Linked DNA regions of Homo sapiens. The protein of the gene in region 1 binds, or shares a complex with, the protein of each later gene. Each region holds a gene or a part of one and is shown on either strand. Other genes may lie near its edges.

Region 1 (7,020 bases):
TCGAGACCATCCTGGCTAACACGGTGAAACCCTGTCTCTACTAAAAATACAAAAAAGAAATTAGCTGGGCGTGGTGGTGGGCGCCTGTAGTCCCAGCTACTCAGGAGGCTGAGGCAGGGGAATGGCGTGAACACCCAGGAGGCGGAGCGTGCAGTGAGCCGAGATCACGCCACCGCACTCCAGCCTGGGTGACAGAGCGAGACTCCGCCTCAAAAAAAATAATTAATTAATTAATTAAAAAATGATTGATAAAAAGTGAGTATCCAAAGCATATAATGTACCCCAGGTAAACAGCTTGTGTCACTTGAAGCTTATGAACAAGGACAGGTACCTGTGTGTCCTGCCAGCTCACGACTCACGCGCACGTTCCCCTCACGAGTTTTCAGATTGTAAATGGAGCAAATGTTATCCAGGCCACCGCAGGCCACATAGTTCCCAGAAGGGGCATATGCACAGGTCATGACCCAGGAGGAGCGCAGAGGGATGGCGTGGACCTAATGACAGAAAGACAGATGATGCAAACAACTTTATGTTCAAAAACAACACTGACACCAGGATTTTCTCATCTCCAACTTTCACTGCAAAGGAGGTAACAGAACAAAATAAGAGCCAAAATTATCTAGAGAGCGATTCCCATATGTGGCCACTCAGGTGAAGCATACTTAATGAGAAGTCCAGTGCTGCACATGGGATTCAAATTCAATCCACACAGTCCAGTTTTACTGAAGTCACAACTTATGATTAGGTGGAGTCTTAACAGTAGTGCTGCCCACTCATCAAAACCACATTAGGCCGGGTGCGGTCACTCACGCCTGTAATCCCAGCACTTTGGGAGGCTAAGTCGGGCAGATCACCTGAGGTCAGGAGTTCAAGACCAGCTTAGCCAACATGGTGAAACCCCATGTCTCTACTAAATATACCAAAATTAGCTGGGCGTGATGGCGCATGCCTGTAGTTTCAGCTACTTGAGTGACTGGGGCAGGAGAATCACTTGAACCCGGGAGGCGGAGGTTGCAGTGAGCTGAGATCACGCCACTGCACTCCAGCCTGGGCAACAGAGCGAGACTCCGTCTCAAAAGAAAACAAACAGGCCGGGTGCGGTGGCTCATGCCTGTAATCCTAGCACTTTGGGAGGCTAAGGCGGGTGGATCACCTGAGGTCAGGAATTCGAGACCAGCCTGGCCTCAAATTGGTGAAACCCTGTCTGTGCTAAAATACAAAAATTAGCTGGGTGTGGTGGTGGGCGCCTGTAATCCCAGCTACTCAAGGAGGCTGAAGCAGGAGAGTCGCTTGAACCAGGGGGGTGGAGGCTGCAGTGAGCAGAGATCACGCCACTGCACTCCAGCCAGGGCGGTAAGAGCAATGCTCCGTCTCAAAAACACAAAAAAACCCACACGTATTGGAAGGAAAACACTGCATTATCCTGTCAAATGGCTATGAACTCATCTGAAAACAAAAAATTTTTTTTTCGAGATGGAGTTTCGCTCTTGTTGCCCAGGTTTGAGTGCAGTGGCGTGATCTAGGCTCACTGCAACCTCTGCCTCCTGGGCTCAAGCAATTCTCCTGCTTCAGCCTCCTGAGTAGCTGGGATTACAGGCGCCTGCCACCACTCCTGGCTAATTTTTTGTATTTTTAGTAGAGACGAGGTTTCACCATGTTGGCTAGGCTGGTCTCAAACTCCTGACCTCAGGTGATCCACCTGCTTCAGCCTCCCAAAATGCTGGAATTACAGGTGTGAGCCACGGCGCCCAGCCGAAAACAAAAGATTTTTATGGAATAACCAAAATGGACATTCCTACAATCTACCCTGCCACATCTCTCCCACTGTTTTAGATCTGCTGTAATTAATGCAATCATTTATACACATTTAGTATTCTTTAGTAAAATAAACTGAATTACATCTTTTACATACATGTTTGGACCAATGACAATACTTTTTATTCAAAACAATACACTTTGGATTAAGTCTTGAAAATAACATAAATTACACTTTAAAGTATGATGTCTTTCAGATGATCTCTTCTAAAAACTTGTAACTGAATGAAAAGTGATACTTCTGCACTCTATAAATAAAACATGAAACTTCCCAGACTCTGCTAAAACTGGAATTGAGGTCTCCTAGAAACACAGAAGGTCCTTAGCTCCCACCAGCTTGGTAAGGAGATGACGGACAACAGCACAACTGTGCCTGGTCCAGAGGAAGAGACCGTGACAGGTGGCACGTGACTCAGCTTCTATCTCACCTGCGCAACTTCACTACTAACAAACAGAGCTTGCCGCTGCTGCCTTCCCTATCCTGTATTACGTGATTTAACAAAATGAATCCAGAGCTTAAAACCCTGTTTCCTGGGTTGGTTTTTCAAGGAAGGGAATCCTCCAGTCCCTACCTTGTTGGTGGTGTAGCTGTCCCAGATGATAAGTTTACCATCCTGCGAGGCACTGACGAGAAGCCTGGAGGGACAGACAAAAGCAAACCTATCAGTACCGCACAACACAGAAAGTGTACAAGAGCAACAGACTAAAACCCAGACTCTGGTGGCTTATGTGCTCCCATGTTACATGTGCTTCAGACAAAGCCACTTATTTATAAGAAAAAAAATCTCTGGTCGGGCACAGTTGCTCACGTTTGTAATCCCAGCACTTTGGGAGGCTGAGGTGGGCAGATCACATGAGGTCAGGAGTTCAAGACCAGCCTGGCCAGCATGGCGAAACCCTGTCTCTATTAAAAATACAAAAATTAGCCGGGCATGGTAGTGCGTCTCTGTAATCCCAGCTACTCGGGAGGCTGAGGCAGAAGAATCGCTTGAACCTAGGAAGCGGAGGTTACAGTGAGCCACAATCATGCCACTGGACACCAGCCTGGGCAACAGAGTGAGACTCTGTTTCAAGAAAGAAAGAAAGAAAGGAAAGGAAGGCTCTAAATGTCAGACCAACTTCAAAGCATGAACAAAAACACTGTCACAGACCACAGTTGAGAGTGGAGATGCCTGGCCCCAACCGAATGCAGGCCACATCACCCCTGGCACCCATTCCCTTTGTCAGCTGAGACAGGCTGACATCATTTCATAAGTGTTTCTGTTTGGTTTCATTACAAATCAAATTAGAGGCTCATGTCTTTAATCCCAACACTTTGGGAGGCCAAGGTAGGTGGATCACAGGAGTTTGAGACCAGCATGGCCTCATGCTAGCATGGTAAAATCCCGTCTCCACTACAAAAACACAAAAAAATAGCTGGGTATGGTAGTGCATGCCTGTAATCCTAGCTACTCAGGAGGCTGAGGTGGGAAAACTGCTTGAACCCAGGAGGCGGGGGTTGCAGTGAGCCAAGATTGCGCCACTGCACTCTAGCCTGGGCAACAGAGCGAGATCCTGACTGAAAAAAAAAAAAAAAAAAAAAAAAAAAAAACAAACAGAAAGAACAAACCACTTTTAGACATTCCAAATTCATGAAACATTTCTCACCCAAAATACCCCATGAAATTTCCCAGACTGAGCTAAAATTGGAATCAAGGTCTCCTAGAAACCAAAGGAGGCGTTCCCTCCTCACCTGCTTGGTAAACAACAGCACCACTGCGCATGGTCCGGGAGCAGAGACCAGTAACTATCACGAATTTTTTCTTTTTTTCTTTTTTTTTTTTGAGACGGAGTCTCGCTCCGTGGCCCAGGCTGCAGTGCAGTGGCGCCATCTCGGCTCACTGCAAGCTCCGCCTCCGGGGTTCATGCCATTCTCCTGCCCCAGTCTCCCGAGTAGCTGGGACTACAGGCGCCCACCATCACGCCCAGCTAATTCTTTTTGTATTTTTAGCAGAGACAGGGTCTCACCATGTTAGCCAGGATGGTCTCGATCTCCTGACCTCGTGATCTGCCCACCTCAGCCTCCCAAAGTGCTGGGATTACAGGCGGGAGCCACCACGCCCGGCCTCTTTTTTTTGTTTTTGAGATGGAGTTTTGCTTTTGTTGCCCAGGCTGGAGTGCAATGGTGCGTCGGCTCACCGCAACCTCCACTTCCCAGATTTGAGCAATTTTCCTGCCTCAGCCTCCAAAGTAGCTGGGATTACAGACACGCGCCACCACAGCCAGCTAATTTTGTATTTTTAGTAGAGACGGGGTTTCTCCACGTTAATCAGGCTGGTCTCGAACTCCCGACCCTCAGGTGATCCGCCCACCTCGGCCTCCCAACGTTTTGGTATTACAAGCGTTGAGCCACTGCGCCCGACCATGAATTTTTTCATAACTATTTCCTTGCTCTGGCAACTGTGCTCAGTTCGGAATCCACATGTTGAAAAGGAGCTCCATACTACAAAGGAGAATATGAATAAGGAGCAAAAGAATTTCACCTTAGCAGGCAAGTAAGGTGGGTGAAAGGTAACTCCTGGGAACCACAGTTGCTTATGAGAGGTCCTAAGGAACCCTGTAGCACAGAATGCTGTTTTCAAGGAAGAGCAAGAAGGTTCCACTGTTTGATGCAGGGATATCTGTCAGTACGGTAAATGATAGTATAAGGATTTTTAATTTTAAAGTTTCTATCAAACGCAAGGTTTTTTGTTTGTTTGTTTTTGTTTGTTTGTTTGTTTGAGACAGAGTCTCGCTCTGTCACCCAGGCTGGAGTGCAGTGGTGTGATCTCAGCTCACTGCAACCTCTATCTCCTGGGTTCAAGTGATTCTCATGCCTCAGCCTCCCAAGTAGCTGGGATTACAGGTACGTGCCACCACACCTGGCTAATTTTTGTATTTTTAGTAGAGATGGGGTTTCCCCATGTTACCCAGGCTGGTCTCCAACTCCTGGCCTCAAGTGATCCGCCCACCTTGGCCTCCCAAAGTGTTGGGATTACAGACATAAGCCACAGCGCCTCAAAACACAGGTTTTAACTATTTCAGCTGTGAACATATGTGGCTTCTTAAAGCTGACCTAAAGCTGGAGTAACGCTCTCTCAAGTTTTGTTGATAACTCTGACACTTTTAATATCAAACTAGATGTTTTGATACAGGTGTCAATGAGTTTAAGAACAAATAAAAACCTTTTCACCTGCACTTTATTACAAAATTTATCACAGAACTAAAAACTAAGTGCAGGCTCCCATCCTATTATTTTTCAGATGCAATTTTTTTTTTTTTTTTTTTTTTGAGAGAGAGTCTCACTCTGTCACCCAGGCTGGAGCTCGCTGCAACCTCTGCCTCCCAGATGCAAGCAATTCTCGTGCGTCAGCCTTCCCATTAGCTGGAATTACAGGTGTGCACCACCATGCCTGGCTACTTTTTTGTATTTTTAGTAGAGACAGGGTTTTGCCATGCTGGTCTCGAACTCCTGAGCTCAATCTGCCTGCCTCGGCTGGGATTACAGGCGTAAGCCACCGCACCCAGCCTTCAGTTGCAATTCTTAAAGCAAACTTCTCAATCCAGGTTGTCATCAACATATTAAACATTTAAAATTATTTCTACGTAATGGTATCATGTTCCCACTCTAGCTTTATTTCTGCCCAGCCCTTCTGAGACTTTCTGTCGAGTATCAGAGCTGATCTAAAGCAGCTCATCCTCCTAGATTAGGAGGATCACCTTTACAGAGGTCTCCCGGTCAGAGAGCTTAATAACTGCTGACTTCCAGAGGGATTAGGGACACGTAAGCTGTCCACTGATCCTCCAGAAGGTGAGAGAAGACATGCCTCCTAGTCCCGGGTCAGGGAGCTGTTGGAAAGCTGGGTTCACGTTGCCTAGTAGTGCCTTTACCTACTCAAAAATCAATTATCTGAGGTGCCACTCACCTAGAACATAGAGGCAAGGGCCAGGAAGCAAGCTAACAGGCTCCAGGACCCTGAAAGTAGCTGTCAAAAATCAAAACACCTAATGCCCTTCATTTTACTCAAAGGAGGGAGGGTGGTGGCTCATGCCTGTAACCCCAGCACTTTGGGAGGCTGAGATAAGAGGATTGGTTAAGTCCAGGAGTTTGAAACCAACATGGGCAACAAAGGGAGACCCTGTCTCCACAAAAAAATATATATATATATTTTTTGAGATGGAGTCTCGCTCTGTCACCCAGGCTGGAGGATCTCGGCTAACTGCAAGCTCTGCCTCCTGGGTTCATGCCATTCTCCTGCCTCAGCCTCCCAAATAGCTGGGACTACAGGCACCTGCCACCGCGCCTGGCTTATTTTTTGTATTTTTAGTTGAGACAGGGTTTCATTGAGTTAGCCAGGATGGTCTCGATCTCCTGACCTCGTGATCCGCCCACCTCAGCCTCCCAAAGTGCTGGGATTACAGGCCTGAGCCACCGCGCCCGGCCCACAAAAAATATTTTTTAAAAATTAGCTGGGCACAGTGATGTGCACCTGTGGTACCAGCTACTCAGGAGGCTGAGGCAGGAGGATTGCTTGAGCACAGCAGTTCAAGGCTTCAGTAAGCTAGGATCGCACCACTGCATTCTAGCCTGGACGACAGAGTGAGACCCAGTCTCAAAAAAAAAAAAAAAAAAAAAAAGTTGCCTTTTAGTACAAATATATTGATAAACATATTACAAATGTACATCTGATACATTAATACATACATACATAACAAGTAATCATTGTGGGCCTTGCATGTAGTTTTCTTTTTTGTTTGTTTTTTTGAGACAGAGTCTCACTCTGTCACCCAGGTTGGAGTGCAGTGGTGCAATCTTGGCTCACTGCAACCTCTGCCTCCTGGGTTCAAGCGATTATCCTGCCTCAGCCTCCTGAGTAGCTGGGATTACAGGCACCCACCATGAAGCCTAGTTAACTTTTGTATTTTTGGCAGAGACAGGGTTTCACCATATTGGGCAGGCTGGTCTCAAACTCCTGACCTCAGGTGATCCACCCGCCTTAGCCTCCCAAAGTGCTGGGATTATAGGCGTGAACCACGGTGCCTGGCCTCTCATGTAGCTTTATTTGTGTTTTGTTTTGTTTTTTGAGGCAGAGTCTCCATCCGTCACCCAGGCGGGAGTGCAATGCGCATGTTTGTGGGTATATATATACATATATATATATTTTTTTTTTTTTTCTTTTTTTGAGA
Region 2 (7,699 bases), on another chromosome or scaffold:
TACTTGGTTCGTGGCTTTGAGCGAGTTCATTAATCTAATGGGTCCTCAATTTCCTCATACATAAAATAATGATAATAGCTTGTAACTCACAAGGCTACTCTTAGCTTAAAACATATTTTTTGTAAAAGTACTAGATTATCATTGGCACCGGGTATATGGTAGTTAGTGTGCCAAGGGGAATGATGCTATTTTCCTCTTTCTCCTCTTTCAAAAGGGTACGTATTTGTACTTTACACAGTATACAGGTCTTAAGCAAAAGGAGATGAAATTGTATGTTTCATCAAGTATTATTTTCAACATCTCTTAAAGCTGGAGTTCATTTACTAAAACATTTTCTGGATGGGCAGATCAATTTCAAACTCAATAGCTTGTTTTCTGGATAAAAAATGTTTTTCCGAGAAGCTGTTACGGTCTAAATATCTAACATCAAATATTAAAATATTTTTCTTCTAATTGTAAGATCAAGTTATACATATATATGTATGTTTATACATATATGTTTCTTTTTTTTAAAGAAAAAACTATTTGACCAGCGATATAACAAACAACATTTATTTTTATCAAAAGCCTCCCACATCAATGAGTTCTACCAAGTCTGGTGGAAACCCTCTTGGTCAGTGGCTCTCAATCCTGGTTGCATATTACAATCACCTAAAGAAATACATCAAATTGCAGACCCTTTCCACAGATATTCTGATTTGATTGAATTGGGGTAAGGCTGAGCATCCGTATTTTTTGAAAGTTCTCCTATTAACCCTAATTTGCAGCCCGAGTTGAGAATACTGATTTAGATTATCATTGAAACCATTACCGGTCTCCTATTTCCATTTCACTAGGACTCTAATAAAAACCAACAGTAGATAATATTTCCATTCATGTTAACATTGACAGAGTCTGAGAGGTTCATCAAGAACAGAATTGCCATGGCACAACTAAACTAATAGTTAGCTCCCTTTCTTCAACTGATTAGAGCAAATGCTCTCCATCCACCATCAATCATTACCTCCAGTTTCAAAATGAGAAACAGAAGACGTATTTATATCAGCTATTTCTTTTTAACTTTGAGAATCATGAAACAAAACAACTCCAAGATTATCTATGTGTTCTTATAAACTGGTTATAATGAAGATTTCTTGTTTACTTATTGTGTTGATGTAGCCAATGAATAAACTTAGAACATTTTATAATATGACCAGATATTATTCTTGGGCTATAGTTCATAAAATAAACTACAGGTTAGAGGCATTGAACCAGAACAAATCCTGGCTGATGGATGTTTTGAGTTATGTTAAAATATTGAGTAGAAATGAGTATCCACTGAGAATACCAACTTAAACTGTAAAGGTTTTACAAATCTAATCATCTTAGTTTCTCTCATAATACTGGTGTATAACCAGCAATCTCAACTTTTTAAAGCTGAGTTATTTTACTACTGAACTCATAGGCTAGCAATATCCTATTAGAAATTACACTTTATAAATTCCATAATACTAAAAGCATTCCTACTTTGTCCTTAATGGTAAGTCAACTGGCCCAAATACATAAAATATTTGCTTTCTATGATCATTTAAGACAGACTTAAACTCGGACGCTCTGTAATTTAAAGATTAGCTTTAAGAACTACATTGTAAAACTTTGACTTATTTTGAACATTTCACCTTCAATCACCGAATAATTTCAACAAATAGCCTTACATAGATAACTTGATTCCGGTTAACCACAGCCTGGAAATAGTCAGGGTCTCCTTAAGATCGGCAAGTGAAACCCTGCGTTCTCTTCTTGCATATGTCACATAGTATTAGGTTAAAGCTTTCATATGAAACTTTTCTTAGGTAGATTTGCCAAATAAAGTCTGTATGATAGTTTACTAATCTCAATTGTATTGTTGATTTTTGACTTGGACCTCAAGGAAAATGAATGTTTTGAGAAAAGGAATTAATTTGTTACAGCTTTTCTTGATGTCTTTCACCCAGGCTTGGGAAGAGCATCATGAAAAAGAGTACTCTTTTGGAAACTATGCACACAACATATTTTTCCTAATAGGTGTGAAGAATGGCTGCTATGCATAAATGATTGTTGGAAAACTATTCTCTGTAAAACATGACTTAACAAGCAACTCCATTCACTACTGTGCTCATTTCCAATATCCAGAACAACCATGACACATCTTATAGATGCTGATATTATATGTTTGTCAGTTAATAAACACCCTTTGGGAAAATTCACAACTTTAACCTCCGTAATTTTCCTACCCAATAAGTTGGAGAATAAAACTTTTGAGGGAAAATTGATATGAACAACATAGTAAAAGTCACAAGAAATCAAACGATTCTTCAATACGAAACCATAAGTTGTTGGCTCTTCCCAGGACACCTATTTTTCTTTTTTCTTTGACAAGGGTAAAGTAAAGCATCTAAGACCTAGCTGACCCTACATGAGAACCACAAGCACCGCAATCAAACCACATTTCTATAATCAAAAAGCAAGGTGCCTATAGCACCTGCACTGTTAAACATCCCTTGGACACCCCAAATCGTTAAGTCCCGCTCATTTCCAAACGCTCCTTACCTGGAATTCTGTCACTGGGCGGCTGGGCACAGCTCAATAGAAGCAAAGGGTGTTCGCAGGTGTGGCTCCAGGGACTCAGGCGCTCAAGCTTCAGCGCCCATCTCCTGGGCAGGAGATGTCAGCCGCAGGGTGAGGTGCGGACGTGCGCACTTCTCCAACCCGGGAAGGTCCGCCAGCCGCGCGGCGCAGCCCACCCAGACGCTGGTGGGCTGGCTTTCCTAGTTTGATGCGAGAGCAAACTGCGTTAGTCTCAGTCCTCCCTCTCCGCCCCTCTCCTGGTTTTCTGACACTTTAAATCTGTCTTAGGTGGTTCAGACCCAAGTCTAGGTTGTATTATCAGCTAAAAGACAACTGTTCTTTCCCCTGGCTTGCTTTCTACCTCCCCAGAGTCCAGGAGGCTCACCTTCCCGGCGCCTTCCTGCGCTCTCCCAGCTGTGAAGCTGTGCGCAAACTTCTCCTGACTTAAGAGTCTCAATCCTAGCCTGCGCTCCCGCCCCACCCCCGCCCGCCTCCCGACAGGCGGCAGAGGAGGTGGCAGCAGAATTGATGAGAGCCAGCCCCCCTTCCCGGACCCCGCCACCCCAGTCAGCCCCCTCCTGTCCCAGGAGAGGGAGGGGCGAGCTGGTGAGCTCCGTGCGCCTCGCGCCAGCCCCAGTCGCCCCGGCCCGCGAGTGGGGCTGCGCTCGCGGCTGCTGTCTCGCTCCAGTCAGGGCTGGGGCTCACCCTGCGAGTCCGGGAGACTAAAGCGCCGCGTAAACACAGGAAGCAGGCGAGGGACCCGAGTTAGACCTTGAGTAGGGAGGGAGAGGGGGGCGACAGTCTGGACTGGGAGACAGCTTTCTGGGAGCCCTGTCCCCTCCCCGGAGAATGCAAATTCCGGAGGGAGGTGAGTTTCCACAAGAACCTTATCCCAGAGACATTGTGACCCTGGCTTCTTCAGCCGCCACTCCGGGGACAGCACTAGGGAGCCTGTGGAGGGAGGGTCGGTAGTGGGCTAGGTAGTGAAAGTGGGGTGAGGACGTGGGAAGACGGCTGGCTAAGAGCTGGGGTGCTAAAAGGAAAAAAGTGCTGAGAGGAAGGAGATGAGAAGAGACACCTTGGGGGTCAGGCAAGCCCTGGGAAAGCGTCCGGAGTTGGGCGGCTGTAGGCTGGAGGCATAACTTGGATTTGGAGAAAGAGTGCCCTCCGTGTAGGGGACTGCTGGTGGGCACAGTGTTTTAGGGTGAATGAAAACAGAGAGGATGGCGAGGGAAGACGGGGATATGGGGTGCCTGACTTGGTGCCGGACACTGCGACTCCTCTTCTTTCCCCCTAAAGCCCTCGATGTCAGCAGGAGTCCGGGACAATCCAATACCAGGCGGGGCGCAGCGGAGGCTGGCAGGCACGCCCTGGGAGGCAGGCAAGTTGATTCCAAGGACGAGTCACCCTCAACCTCTTTTAGCCCACAACTGGGTGGATCAAGGCAGGAGCCAACACTTTTTTCCCTAACTCTGTTTAGGCGGTGTTGGACTAAGAAAACAGCATCCGGTGCGTCCCGGGACCACAAGGTGGCCGTGCACCGTCGAGGTTACTAAACACTGTCTCCTTGGCAAAAGAAATAATAGCAATCATTTAATGGGAGGGGAAGAAAGCCAGACGGCGACAGCACACTTTCCCTGGTGATCTTAGGTTCTCATAAGCACACGGGACAACACCGGGTGACAGAGAAGGAGGTGTCCTGTGAATGGAACTGCAGCCCTCACCCAACCATCCTTGGAGCTCTTCCATGGAAACATCAGTGACTGTAGGCAAAAAATGTCCCCGTTTTATTTTGCATGCTCCTGTTTTATTTTGAATCCTCATACCCCACCCCAGAGAGACAACAGGGACCCCTAATTTGTGTGGTTGAGGCTTTCAGGAGATCCAGTGGAGGACAGACTCAAGGATCAGATCAGCTCTCCCACCCAACATTCCAGGGATTTTGTTTTTCCAGGCTCCCTCCTCTATATACTCCCCCCTTCCCTGTCACCTCCAGTCTGGTGACCCAGAGGGCTGTGTGTGACTCACTGTGCATTCAAACCCTAAGGCACTGCCTCACTGCAGAGGAAGATTGTACAGTCCCTTCATTCCCAGGATAAGTGAGAATGATGTTGTTAGCAGTAAGAAATGTGACTAGGAAAGGAGGCTGGGCAACTGGGAGACAAGGAGGCTTTGAAAGGAACATACACACACACACACACACACACACACACACACACACACACACACACACACACACACACACAGACACAGTAACTTAAACAAAGCCTGTATAAGAAACCCTTCCGAATTCAGAACTTAGATAGGAATCTTCACTCCGTGCTGGGTTGGGCTCAATCTGTCTTGAGTTCAATAGCTCCCTGCTTTCCAACTGCTCCTGACCAGCCAACACTTGACCATGACCTCCTTTAAGAATTCTCTTTTGGAATATTAATTACCTTCTTTTGGTGCAAACAGCAGAGAAATATTAAAGTTGTTTGAGAGTCTCCTATGGTCAACTGCTGGGGCCAAACATTGAGAATTTCTCAGGTTGTAGCCCAAGTCACTGAAATAACAATGATTCAGGGAGACTATTGCTGAGTAGAAAGTGTTGCCGCCCTCGGCATTGTGTGATAGAACAAGTACAAGGAGATTTTTCCGCTGGAGGTTAAATCCTAGGGCAGCCTACCTGATATTGATAACCAGTATTCTGAGAGCAGGATGGGCTTGATTCTATAAATCTAATGAATATATGTGGGATGCAGCCCTTAACCATAATGTAAACAAAGTCTAAAAGTTATTGAGAAAAATGGCATGGGTGTATCATAAAACTTTAAACTGTTTGTGGTCTAAGCATAAGCAACCTCAGCTGATTAAAGTGTGAACTGTGTTAGATACAATATTGGGGGAAACAATGAGAGTTCTCTGTAGGCAGAATATTTCAGGGAAGGTGACACAGCAGAAGCAAGATCAGGGATGAAGCTCTCTTGTCCCCTAAGAAGATTAAATTGACTTTGTCAGTAACAGATATTTATTGAACACCAAAGGGGTTATGTACCTGTTGGAAACACTTGGATTTTACAGAAATTTAAGTCTACTGCTTTCTTAATATTATCACAGTATTTCCTACATGGACACAGTGTGGTAAGTTTTTGGAGGGTGGATGTTAACATGGGGATGGTCTGATAAGGGGAATTGGCATTGTTTTGAAAATGTTATGAGACCCATTACTGGATCTTGAAATCAAGTTAGTGGGCATAAGTAACATTTAAAAAATGAAGTGGAATAGGATAGAAAATATCAGAGTTCATCGCCATTTGAAAGCACAAGAGTGGTTTCTTGAAACTTGTCTTATTTCTCTCTCTCTCTCTATCTCTGTGTATGAAATTGCAAAGTAAAATGTATTTCTTTCTGTAGATCACAAAAATACCTAAAGACACTGGGTTAGAATAAGCTATTCTTCAAGTGGAATACCTTATATTTGCAAATAAGCTTTCAAATGAAATTAGTTCATCAAAGGGGCATTCATAAAATAAGCATCTTAAAATGTGGTAGTCACACATTCCTGGTACTTTTATTGATTATTTATTTTAAAATCCCCTGTCTTTATGATACTTTGCCCCTTTCTCTCTGTCCCTCTTCCTCTTTAGAAAATTTCCCCTTTGGACAGTTACTAATTTAGGGAGAAGTATTCTGTGGATCTTGTCTACAGACTTTTCAATGCAAACTCCACTTCAATTATGAAACCCTCCATCTACATTGCTGAGGGTGTGAAGTTCTGCCACTAGCAAAGGATTATCTGACCTCTCAACTCTGTCTTTCCAAGCAAGGTTTGCCAGAGTTTGAACCATACATACCACTTTCTGGACACTTATGGTTCGAGAATTCAGTGACTTTTCCTTAAAAATCACTAAAGTTTTGAATTTCAGTGAATGGAGGGAAGATTGCCCATTATTAAAGACTAGCTCTATTAATACCTATTCCTGTTAAATATGGTTAATGTGAGGGAGGTCACACTTTGTAGAGACTGAAAAAAGTCATTTAGTTCTTCTTGGAAAAAAATTGTTGTAAGGTTAAATAGAGTTTATTCTTTTTTTAACAGGAATTTAGAGAAAAAATTTCTGGACTCTCTCAGGAATCCAATGGTTAACTTGAATAGCTCCCTATCAGCAAAGTTTTCCTTACATTGAAATCCAGCTCAATCCGTTATGCTTATGTGTTGGTAATTTAGTACATATTTAACACCACATAATTTCACAACACCCTTGGCTAGCCGCTTATGGGGGACCCAAAAAGCACAATATGCAGCTCCTACCCTCAAGAAGCCCACAGTCTATTCAAGAACATTTGTTTCTTCCTCTTGTAGTCTCCTTCCAAATAGACAACAGCTGGTAATTATTCTTTATATAATTACTCTTCCTAGATTTACAGGCCTCACCATGACAGGGCAAATAATAATTTGCCTTAGTGAAAAATAAATGTTTTCCTTTGAAAACAATTCGAACTTTGACCTGATAAATCATGCTCTCTTGAAGGAAGTGTCCTGCTTCGATTTTCCACCTGTCTTTCAGAAACAGGAGCTGGGGTACTTGTAAGTCTCTCTTCTCTCCTCATCTTTCCAAGGGTGTGACACGGCTGTGTTTCTCTAGAGAACGTGTCTTTTGGCATGGAAAAAACAAATTCCACTTGAACTAGGAAGTGTCTTTCCAGATTGTACTTACATAAACTTCACTTTGGTTAACTGTTAACTTAATGTGTAAATAACTCAGAGTAGGAGGAGATGGCAGGGACTTACACCATAAAGCAGCAGTGGAAACTAATTGCTCCATCTCTGATGAAGTTCAGAAATATCCATTTCTTATATTTTAAATAAAATTCTAAAGGGAAACCCAGGAGCCAGAAAAAATACTGCAGAAGCAAATGTACGCAGACATTCATTCATTAATTCATTCAACAAATAATGAAAAATTGCGGCCTCAAAGCTTATATTCTAGTGGGAAGAGGGAGATAGGTAACAAACAAAATAAGAAGTAAATTGTTAATTTCAGATACTGACAATGTTAAAATATCATTAACAGGGAACTGAGAGGCAGGCATGGGGTAATGCTATTCTAGGATAGCCAGGAAAAGCTCT
Region 3 (7,020 bases), on another chromosome or scaffold:
TCCACGTCTGCTCCGCACGCAGCAACCGTGCAGCCCTGAATTCATCGGTCGGGAAAGGCTCTGGCAAGCAGGGCCCTGAGAGCCAGTGCCAGACGAAGCTCGCTCCCAGCTACCAGAAAAAGGCTCTTGAACTTGCGCGGCAGCCTGGACTTGGGCCTCCCGAAGGCTGAGCTGCTTCCTAAAACTCCATCCACCTCCTAATCCCCCACCTGCCTGGCACGCTTGCTGTGCCCCTCCAGGCAGCTGTGGTCCTGGGAGTGATGGTGAGCCACCAGGGCCGCCCGCCTGCATGGAGCTGCTCCCCAGTGGGCGGGGTGGCCCCACATCCTGGACAGTCACTACGGAGGACTCAGGCTGCAGACGGGGCTGGACGGAAACGCAGCAGTGAGAAGGGGTTCAGAGGTCCTGGGTCCCTGACCTTAAGGTGGTGACTCATGCCAGGGATGCCTGAGTGACAAAGGCACACAGTGGCCTCGAGGTCACATGCCCGAGTTGCTTTATTCTGCAAGACAGTGAGATGCTACTGTGTCACAGCAAGGCTGGACCGCAGACTCTCCCACCTGCACCATTTCCTGCCCACCTGCGTCATACAGGTAGGTAGACTGAGGCAGGGAGTGCCCACACAGCCCGGTCACACAACAGGGAAAAAAGCAGACTGGACAAGGTGACCCGGGGCGCGGGACGCAGCTCCTGCCCCACAGACAAGGAGCCCCTCCAGATCCCTCAGTGGCACCAAGGGAGCTCCAGCAGGAGGGGGAACTGGGCAAGTCGCTAGGTGGCCAGCGGCCCTGAGCGGCCAGGCTAGGAGCGTCTGCACAGGGCCCAGGGCTCTACGTGGACCGAGACTTCTGATGGCAGCCGCGGCCACAGTGCGGCACACACCCCACTCCTGGTGCCTTCTCAAGGGAGCTGAGCTTGGGTGGGGGGGGCGGGCTCAGCTCTCAGGGACGGGACTGATGCCCAAGGCCCAGCAGTGGCCCCTCCACAGGAGGTACTGGGCAGAGCCCACCAACAACCTGGGCTCCCCTGGCTGCAGAAGGGCCGTGCCAGCTGTGAGAGGTGTGTCTGTGGCGAGCCGCCCCTCTTCCCAATAAAACCAAGGTCCTTCTGGCGCCTGCGCAGACCCACACGACCCATCTGCTGTCTCCCTCCAGCCATGCTGGCTGCAGGCCCTTGGCACCCTCTGCTCCCTACCAGATGCCATCCACCTCAGGGTCTCCCCGACCGGCCCTCATGGGGCCCTCCTTCCCTACACACGTCTCCCGTGCCCAACTTCCTCAGAGCCATCCTTTGGGGGCTCCCAGAGTCTGGGCCGGGCAGGATGAATGGATCCTTCAAGGGACCCTGGGGAGAGCCGGGTAGACGGAGCTGGCAGGCACTGGGGCAGTGACAGAGGACAAGGGTCTCAGGGTAGGAGAGCCCCAGACCGCAGGACTTATTTGGGAGGCAGCCGGTCGGGGGAGTAAAGGGGAGCCCTTCCTTCACACCAGCCATACAAGCTTCCAGCCTCAGTCATTTGTCTCACCTGCGATGTTTTGCTGTCTCGTTCTCTAATTTTGTCCTTTACAAGTTTTATTAATGAGGTGATATTGTAAAATTCTGCTTCCTCCAACACTCCTGGAATAAGGAAAAATAAATTGTCTTTACCAGACCAAACTAAACCAAAGAATCCACGCTTTACACCCACCCCTGCCCTTGCCCCTGCCCCTGCAATGAGGGCCCATGGCTCGGCCCAGCGGGAGCTGCTCAGGCCCCGACCTAACAGGCTTCCTGCAGACGTGTCAGCCCAGCAGGGCTCCTGGGATAATGGGCGGAGGGGCCGTGGTGAGAGGGCCGATGTGTGGACTGAACACCTCCAGCTCAGGTCACCCCAGGTAACCTTGAGTGACCTCCAGTGACCCGCCAGGTATGGAGCCGCTGCTTACATGCAGCTCAGCGTATGTCTACGCCGAGGCCATGGTATGCTGGGGGTTGGATCTGGCATTTTCCCTCCAAGCCTGGAGGCCGACGCTTCCTGCTGGGAACCTGCTCATGGCCACGCCACTGGGTGGGGTGCTGTGTGGGGCTCAGGCCTGCGGCCTTGTGCATATGTCTCAGTCACCTGGCACCTCAGTTGACCCCATTCAAAGGGAAGACTGTGGCTGGCTGAGAGGGTCACTTCCAGCTCTTCCCAAAGACTGCCATCCGTAATGTGCCGCACTTAGGGACTGCAAACCTCCCTTAAGAGCCTTAAGAGCAGATTCCACAGGTCCTGCCTCAGGGCTTCCTCATGGGTGGTCTTCATTCCTCCAGGACCCCAGAGGAACCCACATATGGCACATGGCAGCTCAGGACAACACCCAGCCACCTACATGGGACAGGGCCACGCAGGATAGAGACAAGGAGACGAGGGCCTCAGAGACACAGGCTTCCCGGCCCCGCATGGGTCCCGCACAGCCCCCTTCTCTAGCACCCAGGGCGTGAGTGGCTGCATCGGGGCGGGATAGAGGCAGACCGGTGAGCCTGGGCGGCAGGGCCTTGGTCTGTGTCTAGCGCCCGTTTCTGAGCCAATCCCACTAGGGGCAGAATGAGATAAAGCGAAGCCTCGACTCGAGCGGCTCCACGACAACACAAGCGGCTGCCCAAGCGACCAGAGAGAGTACATGTGAAAGACATTCCCTGCCAAAGAGACAGGAGTGGGGATCATGGCTCACAGCCTCAGAGCAGGGGCAGGGCTGGGCCACAGCCCCCGTCACTCCACGCCCCGCGTGAACTCGGAGGAGGCAGGCAGATGCCGAGGCCCAGAGGCCCAGAACAGAAACGGAGTCAGACGCTGCCCAGTGCAGACCGATGCGCAGACACGGACCCGGGGGAGCAGGGCCACGCCCGCACGCAGGTGCCCAGAAACCCTCAGCCTTCACGGCGAGGCCTCGAGCTGTTCTGAGCCAAGCCAGCACCGCAGCACACAGGCAGGCCAGCCTGGGCCCAACGCGTGTGGGCGCCGTCCCTGCACCACGATCACTCAGAATGGAACACGGCAGCTGGCAGCAGCAGGCACAGTCCAGGTGATGGCACAGAGACATTCACCACCCTTGGGCTGTCCTTGAGGGAGAGCAGGCCAGGGAACCAGGCCCTGAAGCACGCCGTGGGCATCACCGGGCATGTGCCTCACACACCCGCTCAGACCACCTCAGTCACAGCAGGGAGGAACCCCTCACACCCCTTGTGTCGCCAGCCGGAGCCTGGACAGAGGGAGCCCTCCAAGGAGCTGCAGCCAGGGAGGACCCCACACCCACAGGGTCCCCAGGCCTCCCTGTCCGGCAGCTGCGCCGCTGCCCGTGGCCTCAGCACCAGAACGTCGGCCCCAGCTTCAGAGTACAGGGCCTGCTCCTCCCTGGGGCCCCAGGCTGCAGGCATCTGTGTCTTAAGTGGAGCCCTTGGCACCTTTGTCGGGCCCTTGCCCCCAAAGCTAAGGCACCTGTGCCCAAAACTCGGCTTACCTTCCTCCGCGAGGTCTTTGTTAATCACCAGCTTGCCGTGTCTCAGGTAGTTCAGCACAGGCCCAAAGTAGGTGGGGTCTCTGTCGATTAAATAGGCGCCTGTTTCATCCTAAAGAGAGCAGAGCACGGTGAGTCCTCCGTGAGAAGCCGAAGGTTCCTGCAGGTCCACCAAGGCCCGGCCACCTCAGGAGGCTTCAGAGGCACCAGGTTACCCAGGCCTCTCCCCAGCACACCTGAGCCTGCGGCATCTCAGGAAACCCCTGACGGTGTGGCCACGTCCTGCCGCCTACAGCCTAACCCTGACCAGCCACCACCCCAGGTCTAAGTGAGTTTAAGTCTCTCCGTACGGAGGCAGCCTGGCTCTGCGTACTCCAAGGTGAGCCCACTGTGCCCTGGACCTCTGTCCTCACAACTGCAAGACCTCTAGGAAAACACACACGAAAACCTCACCCAGAGATGCCCTCGCGGGCAGGGCAGGGGCCTAGGGCTCAGCCTCAGAAGGACACCTCTGATGGCCACCAGCCTGGGCCTGCGCTCCTCGTGCCCGGGTCCTCCGCAGCCTACATGCAGGAACCGGGGGTCAGGGTGACAGGGGCTTCCTGCCAGGGGTGGAGAGGGCACCTTTCAGCAGGGGCGGCTGCCCAACAGGCCGGGAGCCAGCAGCGAGGGAGGCCACAGTGACCGGCACTCAACAGCATCCGGGGCTTTCCCCAAGATCATCACTCACCTCACAGAGCCCTCGCCCCGGCTCAGCGCTCACGGAGGCCGAGATGTTTACAAAACAGACCCCTCGGAAGGTGTCCTCACGCACCTGGGTGGAGGGACCCCTGAGAGGCACTGCCCCTGCTGCTACCACGGCCACTTCAATGTGGGCAGATGCCCTCTGAGGCCCGGGGTGCCCCACACATCACACCTTGCAGCCCCTTCCACAAAGCACAAGAGCCCCAGTGGCCCGGCCGTGAACACAGGACGGGGGCTCAGACGCCCCAGGCAGCCCCCATGGGGGAGACGGAAGAGGCAGTTTCTGTCTTGTCGGCTACACATCTGATGGGGGGACTGCGAAGCTGGCACAGCCTGTCTTCTACACAGACTCAGACCTTCCGTGTGGCTCTGCTGGGGCAGCTCCTGCCTCCCCCCACATGCCTGCAAGGGTCCTGCTCCCACCTGCGAGCCACTCCCACAGGGGCTGGTGCCTGCGGGTGCCCTGGAGGCCGGGGAGCTGAGGCCTCCGTTCAGAAACACCGGCAGCCTCCCCGGCGAGGCCCAGGGCCAAGCGCTGGAGAAGCAACCCCACACCCCATTCGGAGCAGGAGCAGCCCCCTCACCAGATGGTGGCTCCTGTGGGGCCATGGGCAGGCGCTGGCCACGGGAATGCCAGGCTCGCAGATATGGGGAGGCCGAAGGTGTCTCCACCACAAAGCACGGGGCCACGCTAGGACCCTATTTTCATCCATGGACAAATTCTGCCATTTGGGTGCTAAGACCTAGTGGTCTCAAGAGATTTTCCCAAAGTCCACCACCGCAAACCTGCAACAACCTGCTCTTTTTAGATCACAGGGACTGAGTTTTGTGGCTGAGATAAAATCAATTAGGGCTCCGGGCATGGGGGCGCTGGACCCGGAGCCTCGGCGGCCCCCCTACTCCTTAGGGTGACCCCAGCTCCACACAGACCTGACCCTATCCTCCTTCCCCACCCTCCCCCGGAACACTCCAGCCAGAGCTGCCCACCCCACAGGCCCTGCCTCCTGGGCTTGGCCCTGCCTTTCCCCAGCCCTCCAGACTCCACAGCTCTCAAGCAAGGGCCGGGGCCACAGGGCCAGCTCCCGGGAAGAGGACGCTGGGCGGTCCTGCGCAACTGCTAAAAAATGGACACCATTTCCCACAAAGGGGCCCAAGTCTGGCAAGGCGGCCAGTGCTGCCACCCGAGTCCAGGGTTCCTCCCTGCCCCACCCCCATACAGAGAGAATGCTGGCCGCGTGACGTCCGCACACCGCTCAGCTCAGGAATTATTCACGGCTCACTGCTACCTCGACAGACCGCTGGCAGGAGGTCAGGAAAGATCAGATAGGGCGGAGGCTCGCCTCTGCCCAGGACAACCCCAGAGAACCCCTTTGTCAGCCATGGAGGCCTCCAGGCCTGGCCTCAGTGGTCAGACTGCAGGCTCACAGCCAGGCCACCCCAAGCCTCAGTTTCTTTACGAGCAAAAGGTGGGGGAGACCAGCTCGTGTAGCTCGGGGCCGCCATGAGTGCCAGGGCACCCAACCTGTGGCAGGACCTGGGCACTGAGCCGTGACCTCTAGGCCAAGACAACCCACCATGTGCTTCTCAGGCCCTGGGCCGGTGCAAGAGGAGAAGGAAGCGTGCTGGGCGCCCCCAGACACACGAGGCAACCCCAGCCCTGCAACTGGAAGGATGAAGGCAGGAGGGAAGGAGGGCAGGGTGGGGACGGCCATCGGCGGAAACTGCACAGCAGGACAGAGGAACACAGACAGGTCCAAGGAGCCGGCAGGGCACTGAGCGTGCTGGCACTGGGCTCGGCCTCAAGACGGGCAGGCAGGGGTAGGCCGCTGCCGTGTCTTGGCCACTCCTACCACTGGGCGGGGCTGGCTTTTCCATTAAACACCCCCTTTAGGAGGCAGCTTTTGTGGCTGATGCTTTGAAGGAACTCCTGACCTCAGTCTGGCCACAGCTGGCCCAGTGCGGTGATGCCAGCAGCAGGCCAACTGGTGCAGCTGCTGCCATCACGTGATACCTGCCGCTGCAGGGAGGGAACAGGGAGGAGGCGAACAGACCCCACTCCCCACACCATAGCCCACTGCCCTCAGCATGGCAGGAGAGCAGCATGGTTGGGTGGAGAGGGGCCCCGATGCAGAGCTGGGGCTGTGCTTCGGGGGCCTGGGGTGGGTAGTGAGAGTGGCACCAGCGGTGAGGACCCAGCCAGTGGCACAGCCATCACACCCACCCCACTGAAGATGTCAGGTTCCCGGGCCTCGGGAGGAGGATCTGCGTGGGGCTGCCTGGGGCTGCAGCCCTGGGGTTCGCCCCACCCAAACTATGGCTGCAGACCCGGGCTTCCCGCTCCACGGAGCAGGCAGGCCCACAACTGCAGCTGCCCAAACCACAGCCTCAGGCATCCCTGCACTCTTGGGGGCCCAGAAAGGCCCCTCTGCCGGGCCCTTGCAGGCTCAGAAGTGCCTGCTCTCACTGCCTGGCTTACTCCTATTGTTGGTGCCTGCTCCGATCTTGGAGCAAAGTTGGGGCCGAGCCCAGGCGCCATGTATGGCAGCAGGAGGCAGATAGATTCCTGGGAAGAAGGGGGTAGGTCCCCGGTAAGGCCCCACCTTCAGGCCAGGGAGGGCATGAAGGCTGGGGCCGGGCTGCCAGTCCCGGGGACCAAAGTGGGGACTTGTGGTGCGTTTTCCGGGCCTGCCCATGAACCAATTAGTATGCACTTCCTTCCCTCTGGGTCCATAAGAGCCCTGGGCTCAGCCAGAGCAGGGCAGAGGACAAAGAGGACAGAGACAATTGGCAAGTGGAAGAC
Region 4 (7,020 bases), on another chromosome or scaffold:
CATCCATAATCCCACTCGCCCACACTCCCTCTGAGATACATACTGCTTTTATGCCCATATTGCAGGCAAGAACACTGAGTCTCAGACACATGAAGTAACTTATTGAAAGTCCTAATCAGCTCCTATGCACCAGTGCAGGCAGGTGAATCCACAGCCCTCGCTATTAACCATGGGGCAGTACTCCCTCCACAAGAGGCATTCGGTTTGCGAGGAGAGCTTAGAGGTTTGGAAAGAAGACTCATACCTCCGGCCTGGAGGATCAGGGAGGACTTAGCCCTCTGAGCTGGACTTCTGGGGACAGGTTGGATTTTAGCAGGTGAGTGTAATAGGCACAGGAGAGGCCCTCTAGGCTGAGGGGACTGAGCAAAGGCAAGGAGACAGGCTGGGCTTTGTGCCTTGGGAGGAGTGTGTTGTATGGAGAACAGGGAGTAGGAGAAAGAAACAATGAGGCTGGGGAGGGGCATGGAGGTCAGGTGATGCAGGGCATTCTACAGGGCTTCACCATCTGGAGAGGGAGCCTGGGTGAGCTTGTGAGCAGAGAAGCTCAATTTTGGGAGCACACTGTCCTCTGGAGGGAAAGGAGAAGTAAGGGGATTTCTGCACAGACCCAGGTAGACCGCAGGCTGTAAGAGCAAATGAGGTTGAAGACGCCAGCAACCTTGGGCATTTGAAATTGACAAGATATGGTGAGAGATGGCAAGGTAAAGGTTGGGCACACAGGAAACAGCTGAGCACAGTTGGGGATGTGTTGACTTTGAGGAGCTGGAGGGACAGCTGAGTGGAGATGTTCAGGAAGCAGCTGGTTGGGTGGGGGAAAAGCTCAAGAGAGCACCAAGAGTGGAGATAAGGCGTTTAGAAGTCCTCAGGATGTGGGGTTAGCAAATAGCTACAGTGTGTGAGTTTGGGAGGCTGGGTCAGAGCCTTGAGCCATCTTACCCAGAGTTATTTCCAGATGCAGCAGGGCCAAGGGAAGGGAAGGGACTAGCGCATGGCCACACATGTTAGTCAGTGGCAGAGCCAAGTTAAGCACACGAGTCTCCTTGGGTGTTCTCTACACAACCTGTGCTGGCGCTTCAGTGGCTGAGCTTCCACATGTTTGTACTGTGGTTTAACTCATTTAATCCTTGCACCATCGAGTGACAGAGACATGGCATTATCCTCATTTTACACATGGGGAAACTGAGGTGTGGAGCAATGAAGTCACTTGTAACAGAACAAGGATTCAAACCCAGGTTCTGCTGCCTTTCAAAAAGCAACTCTGCTAGGTTAAGCAGAGAAGAAATTTTTTAAAAAGATATTGGGGAGCTTATGGAATCACTGAGTGGGCTAGAGAACCAGATTTGGGGCCCCAAGCCAAGAACACAGGGCAGAGCTGGCCCTGTGAGGGGACCTCCCTCTCCCTGAAAGGCCCTGCCAACACCACCAGCCCTGGCCACCACTAGTGGCATGATCAAAGATCACTGCAATCTCAAACTCCTGTGCCCAAGCAATCCTCCTGCCTCAGCCTCCCGAGTAGCTGAGACTGCAGGCACATGCCACCACACCTGGCTAATTTTTAAATTTTTTGTAGAGTTGGGATCTTGCCATTTTGCCAGAGCTGGTCTTGAACTCCCAGACTCAAGCGATCCTCCTGTCTCTGGCTCCCAAAGTGCTGGGAGTATAGGCGTGAGCCACTGCACCTGGCCAACCTGGAGTCTTAAGCTTCCTGCAGTTATCTCTGGAGAGGCTTTCTCCCTGTCTCCATCTGGGGGCCTCCAGTTCACTAATTCCCTCGGGTAGGTGCATCTGATGGGTGGGGGAATATGTGGAGCCCCAAATCCCATGCCAAAGCTCTGGCTACAAGGGATCCTGGGAAGTAAGGATCTGGCATTTTAGCTCTAGGCGGGGAGGTAGCCTCGGTCTTACCCCAGGATTCTCCGAACCCAGGTTCAAATCCTGGGTGGCTAGAAACAATCCTAAATGTCCATATACAATTTAATTGGGGCAAGTCTCATCCCTTTTGTGGGCCTGTCTCCCTGTCTGTAGGCCGAAAGGAAGTGGATTAGCATGGAAGTGGTTTGGCCAGAAGTGGGGCACTTATATTCCATTTTCCTCCCACCTCTCCCCATTCCACACGGACTCCTCTGAGCCCATCTCTGTGTGTACATCTCTGTCTCTGTGTCTCTCTCATTGTCTCCCTGTCTGTTTCTGATTTTCTCTATGTGTGGTTCTGTTTCTGGGTGTATGTTTCTGTCTTTCTCAGATTCTCTCATTTTCTACCTCTCTCTCTCTTTCTCCATCTCTCCCTACTGCCTTCTTCATCCCCCGACTCCATCTCCAAACCCACTGTCTCCCCACTCCCATCCCTCCTTCTATCTGCCCTCCTCCTGCACCTCATCTTGCCTGTCCCTACGGTCCTTTTGGCTGCAAAGGAGGGTCTTGCCACCTCCCTCCTGGCCATGGTCCATTTTCCTTCTGTGGAACCACTAAGTGCAGCTTGGCTGAGCCTCAGCCTCCTTGACCTCAAGCTCCGCAATGTCCTACTGGGAATGGCTGGGGTCATCTGTACTGAGGCATCTGCCAGGACAGGGGAAGAAGGGGCATCCCATCTAACCTAGCCACATGGGGAGGTTAGGGGTCCCCACTTCCCAGAACCCCATTCTAGAGACATGCTTAAGCACTGATTGTGTTACAATGGAAACACATAAGCTGAGTGGTCTCCAGCCAGAGGGGTCTCTCCCATTGGGTCTGCCTGCTTATGCAGGAATCCCTTCTTCAGCCCTAAGAGTCAGAGGTGATAAGAAAGGCTGAGACCTGCCCTCAGGAAGCCCCAGGCTGCTTATCAAGGAGGCTTGTGCAAATCAACAGTCAGAGATCGGGAAGAGGGGCTTGGTGGACACTGGGACATTCCTGGGAGGCTTTCTGGAGGGAGTGGGGGTAAACTTTAAAGGTCTTGGAGCAGTTGGGATGCCACATTTGTTAAGGACAGGCGCAGTGCAGGGGTGCAAGCCTCAGGAGGACCCCAGATAGACCCTGCCCTCTGGGTTGAAGAAGTAGAAGCTGTAAATCCGGAAACTCAGGTCTGCATTCTCAGACTCCAGCGAGACCTGATCCCCCCTGACTCTATTCCATTCTCCAAGGGCCACAAGTTACTCCATGTGTGAGAACAACTTCCCTGCTGGGAGAGAGGGAAGGTGGGACAGGCATGGCCATCACAGAGGTTTAGCTAAGAAAAGAAGGAAGGAAGAGAAATAGAGCAGAAGTGGATGCCCTTGTGGCCATCCAGACACCCCAGAGCTGCCCGGCTGCAGAGCGCTCTATGTTCCGAGTCCAGCCTTCCCCTCCCCACTTAAGGGTAGGAAATGACTGGCCAGGAGAGGGAAACACAGCTGCTCAGAGTTCTACAGCAAGTCTGGGCCCTGATAGGCCTCTGCTGGCTCTGGGAACTCCTGGCTTCTGCTCTAGCTTCTACCCACCTCTGCATGCATCTTGATCTTTCCTGTCTCCTGCTCTCCCCAGGAATCCTCCAGCCACCTGATCGTCTTGCTCAGGCTCACCCCTTATTGGGGTTCTGAGTATTTTACCCTTTCCCCCAGAAAGAATTGAGGAGCCTAGAGACAAGCTTTTCAAAGATGCATAAGACCTGAGCCTGCCTTCCAGGGGCTCCTGTTCTAGGAAGAGTGACAGACAGGCAGACTCTCAAAGAGAACTTTTTGATATAGGCTCCCAAGTAAAATAGCACAGTGAAGACAGTCAGAGCACATGGAAGGGAGTTATTCCAAGAGTAAGGGAAAGTAAATTTGGAAGACTTCATGGAGGAAGTGTTGTTGAACAGTGCCTTGAAAAATTGAGCTAATGATGTGTCAGATGGAAGGGAGGGTGGGAGCGGAAGTGGAAGAGGAGGGAGGGAAGAATAAGCCAGATCATGGAGGCCTCAAATGTTGGACCAGGGCATGGGCCTCGATTCTGCTGGCTTTAGAGACAGCGGCTGCTTGTCCGTAGCCCTATGGCACAGGACCAGAATACTCTGGAAGGATACTGCTTTTCAAAATGTGCCATCTAAATCTCAATCAAGGGCTGGCTGGGGACCTGGGCCTTGGCCCTTTCCTCTCCTCCCACCTGCTCCTTAAGTCAGAGGTCCCAGCATCCTTCCCTGTGCACTCCTTACCACCAGTGCCACAGCAGAGCCTGGAGCCCTGAAGACGGGCTGAAGGAGGAGCCCCATCTCAGTGATCCTCAGGGAGCTCCCCACAGGGCTTCTTGGCTGGGCCCCAGGTACAGGCATTTGGGCCCCTCTGACTGCCCACCCTCACCAGGTGCTTCAGAGTCAGGCAGGCGGTCCCTTTCACACACAGCACCTGCCAGGAGAGCAGCTGGGGCAAGGGAGAGTGGGAGGAACCTGGGCTCAGATTTAGCAGGGCTGGATCTAAGTCCTGGGTTTGCCATGACTCACTGAGGGACTGGCAGGCCCTCCTTGTCCAAGTCCCAGTTTTCTTATCTGTGTGAAGGGGACAGAGAACATGCTGACCTCGTGGGGCCATGGCACACAGGGGAGATGATGCTGCTTGGGGCTCCCTGTAGACAGCTAAGGCATTGTCAGCAAGGGGAGGGGAGTTGAAGGTGGCCTGGGGCCTGGAAGGAGGGGCCATCATGTCCTTGGGTAGGGGAAATCCTGCTCACACCAAGAATGGCTATCCTCATTCTGGGGTGGTGGTCTCCTGCTATCTCTGAGAGCCCCCAGAACTCTGTGGCTTCTGGGGATGTCCTGGGAGGGAGGATTCTGTCTATCTAGATTGAGAAGGTCTGGTACCTAAAAGCCTGTAGAGAAAGGCAGCCCCTTGCCCCCCTGGAGGGATGCTGCTGGCATCCTGCCAGCCAGCTGTCTTCTCCCTGCATTACTTCATAGGAACTAGGAACTGAGAGCCAGATCTAATCCCGGCCATCCTACTGACTGCTTTTCTCCCTTTGGGCAGGTGGTCTCCCCTCTTCAGACCTCAGTTCATCTGCACCAGGTGGGTGGAGGGCTTGATGAGTTCTAGTGATGTTTCTCAGTTCCAAGGCAGCTTCTGCCACAGGGGTCCTGTGTTGGTCCCCTCCCCACTTTCCTCCACAGGCTGGCGTCATGGCGACGAGCCCACTGAGTGTTGCTAGGATGGCTGGAAGGAGGGAGCCCTGTACAGTAGAGGCGGGAGCATGAGGTAGGGGCCTCCTCCCACTGCCCCTCTCTGGGGAGGGCAGAGCTTACACAGTGAGCTGGGTTCCACTCCCCCTTCCCTTTTTCATAGACCCAGTATGGTCTCCATTAAACTGCTCAGTGCCTCTATGACTCAGTTTCCCCACTGTCTCCTGTAAGTGTGCTTACAGGTCCTGCTTAAGGATGGCAGGGCACCATGAGTGAAAAGTCCTGTGGAAATAGGGAGTTGAGGGTCTCTGAAGGTCCAGAACAGGCAGTCGAGGCTCAGAGAGCTGTGTCCATATAACACTAAGAAATGGAATCCAAGTTCCCTGGCCTGAATCCCAGACAGCACCAGCAAAGGGCCCTGGGGATGCCTTTCCCACCCAGTGGCTGGGGTTGGCAATATTAGACTCCCAAACTCAATCTAGCACTTCTACGTCAGTCTGGGTCTGAGCTTGGGTGAACATCACCAGCTGCCTGTTCCCCTCTGACCACCAATTTGCTGTGATCGGATCAAGACAGAAATATGCCAGGTGGGCCTCAAAGTTGGTCAGTCCTCCTTAACCTGCAGTGGCCTCCAAGCAATGCAGGATGCTGACTCAAGGAGATGCACCTCGTTTGGGAAGCTCAGGAAAACCATGCTGTTAGTACTAGGACTGTACGTCTGACCACCCCAGCTCTGTCCACCTTCCCCAAAAGTCTCTTAACTGGGGATGAAAAGCAATCCACTCCAGGAAGTGGAGGCCAAGCTGGGAGGAGACATTGATTGAGAGGTTTTTCCCACAGAAAGCAAGAAAGATGGCCAGGCATGGTGGCTCATGCCTGCAATCCCAACATTTTGGGAGGCTGAGGCAGGAGGATCACTTGAGGCCAGGAGTTTGAGACCAGCCAAAACCACATAGTGAGACCCCGTTTCTACAAAACAAACAAAAAAATAACAAATGATCATGGCATGGTGGCACATGCCTGTAGTCCCATTACTCAGGAGGCTGAGGCAGGAGGATCACTTGAGTATAGGAGTTCAAGGCTGCAGTGAGCTAAGATCACACCACTGCCCCCCAACCTGGGTGACAGAGTGAGACCCCATCTCAAAAAAAAAAAAAGTAGGTAAGAAAGGTGACTCAAAGTCATGGTCAAAGATTTCTCAACTAGGCCCCAGGCCAGACAAGAAGATGGCTGGATCTGGAGTGGCCCAACTACAGGCAGTAAAGGGAACTGAGGGTGGGATATCTGGCCCCTAAGGTATTCTCTTCTGAGGATCTGGACACCAAGTGGTAATGACACTGAAGAGGTGGCATAACTGGCTGCATCTGCTGAAACACAGGGTCACAGGGAGAGTCTGTCTCTCCTAGGTACACCAACTCCAGGGTCTCCCGTGAGGAAGCGTGTCCCAAGGGAGAGAGATCTTCTGCCTCTTCATGGTTGAGTGACCCCAGATGTGTCAGTTTCTCTCTTCTGGTCCCACCAGACCAAATGCAGAAGTTGTCTTCCTTCCTAATTCCCAAGGAGATGCCTGATAACTCAGTTTCCAACTTGCTTCCCTTGGAACAGTCAAAGCTTTCATGCCAGGAACCTGGAGAATGCTGCCCACAGGTTTGCTGTTTGAGACTGACACCCCTCCCCCATGTGGGGTTGGACTGCAATGTCTGCAGTTTTGGCAGCTGGGTCAGCCTACCCATGGTGTCTTTGTGTGAGACCTTGCTTCCTCCTGCATGTATGTGTGACTGTTTTGTATTTGCCATGCATCTTGGTGAAGCATGGGCATACAAGGTGGCAGACTGTCCTCCTGGCCCACTCTGAGCCTCCTACCTTCAATGAGTTCCCAAGTAACCTAGGAAACAGCATCAGCTTTGGTCCATCCTGAG

Evidence for each region.
Region 2: the proteins of GNB1 (region 1) and CALCR are in contact, whole or in part, in a cryo-EM structure (PDB 8F0K), measured with the Homo sapiens proteins. Residues at the interface, in NP_001269468.1 of Homo sapiens: Thr47, Arg52, Phe292, Ala309, Gly310, His311, Asp312, Trp339; in NP_001158210.1 of Homo sapiens: Arg174, Ser175, Arg404, Gln408.
Region 3: the proteins of GNB1 (region 1) and KCTD5 are in contact, whole or in part, in a cryo-EM structure (PDB 8U7Z), measured with the Homo sapiens proteins. Residues at the interface, in NP_001269468.1 of Homo sapiens: Arg52, Gly53, Leu55, Lys57, Tyr59, Gln75, Asp76, Gly77, Lys78, Thr87, Asn88, Lys89, Val90, Ala92, Pro94, Leu95, Arg96, Ser97, Ser98, Trp99, Met101, Leu117, Gly131, Asn132, Val133, Arg134, Val135, Thr143, Tyr145, Gly162; in NP_061865.1 of Homo sapiens: Val157, Arg159, Val160, Leu161, Gln162, Cys163, Gln164, Glu166, Glu167, Gln170, Met171, Thr174, Met175, Ser176, Asp177, Trp179, Ser190, Tyr191, Val205, Lys207, Leu209, Glu219, Ser221, Lys223, Ala224, Leu227, Gln228, Arg230, Gly231, Ser232.
Region 4: the proteins of GNB1 (region 1) and CRHR2 are in contact, whole or in part, in a cryo-EM structure (PDB 6PB1), measured with the Homo sapiens proteins. Residues at the interface, in NP_001269468.1 of Homo sapiens: Arg42, Gln44, Arg46, Arg52, Phe292, Val307, Ala309, Gly310, His311, Asp312; in NP_001874.2 of Homo sapiens: Arg142, Ser143, Lys372, Arg376, Asp379, His380, Ser382, Val385.

Annotation. Positions count from the first base shown.
Region 1 is NC_000001.11:1,804,088-1,811,107, forward strand, and holds part of GNB1 (guanine nucleotide-binding protein G(I)/G(S)/G(T) subunit beta-1), read right to left. Parts: intron 2,452-7,020; coding exon 2,388-2,451; intron 495-2,387; coding exon 332-494; intron 1-331. UniProt on the Homo sapiens protein: Guanine nucleotide-binding proteins (G proteins) are involved as a modulator or transducer in various transmembrane signaling systems.
Region 2 is NC_000007.14:93,571,721-93,579,419, forward strand, and holds the start of CALCR (calcitonin receptor isoform 2 precursor), read right to left. Parts: upstream 3,005-7,699; 5' UTR 2,972-3,004; intron 2,787-2,971; 5' UTR 2,569-2,786; intron 1-2,568. UniProt on the Homo sapiens protein: G protein-coupled receptor activated by ligand peptides amylin (IAPP), calcitonin (CT/CALCA) and calcitonin gene-related peptide type 1 (CGRP1/CALCA).
Region 3 is NC_000016.10:2,692,503-2,699,522, reverse strand, and holds part of KCTD5 (BTB/POZ domain-containing protein KCTD5), read right to left. Parts: intron 3,589-7,020; coding exon 3,480-3,588; intron 1,618-3,479; coding exon 1,526-1,617; intron 1-1,525. UniProt on the Homo sapiens protein: Its interaction with CUL3 suggests that it may act as a substrate adapter in some E3 ligase complex. Does not affect the function of Kv channel Kv2.1/KCNB1, Kv1.2/KCNA2, Kv4.2/KCND2 and Kv3.4/KCNC4.
Region 4 is NC_000007.14:30,672,453-30,679,472, reverse strand, and holds part of CRHR2 (corticotropin-releasing factor receptor 2), read left to right. Parts: intron 1-7,020. UniProt on the Homo sapiens protein: G-protein coupled receptor for CRH (corticotropin-releasing factor), UCN (urocortin), UCN2 and UCN3. Has high affinity for UCN.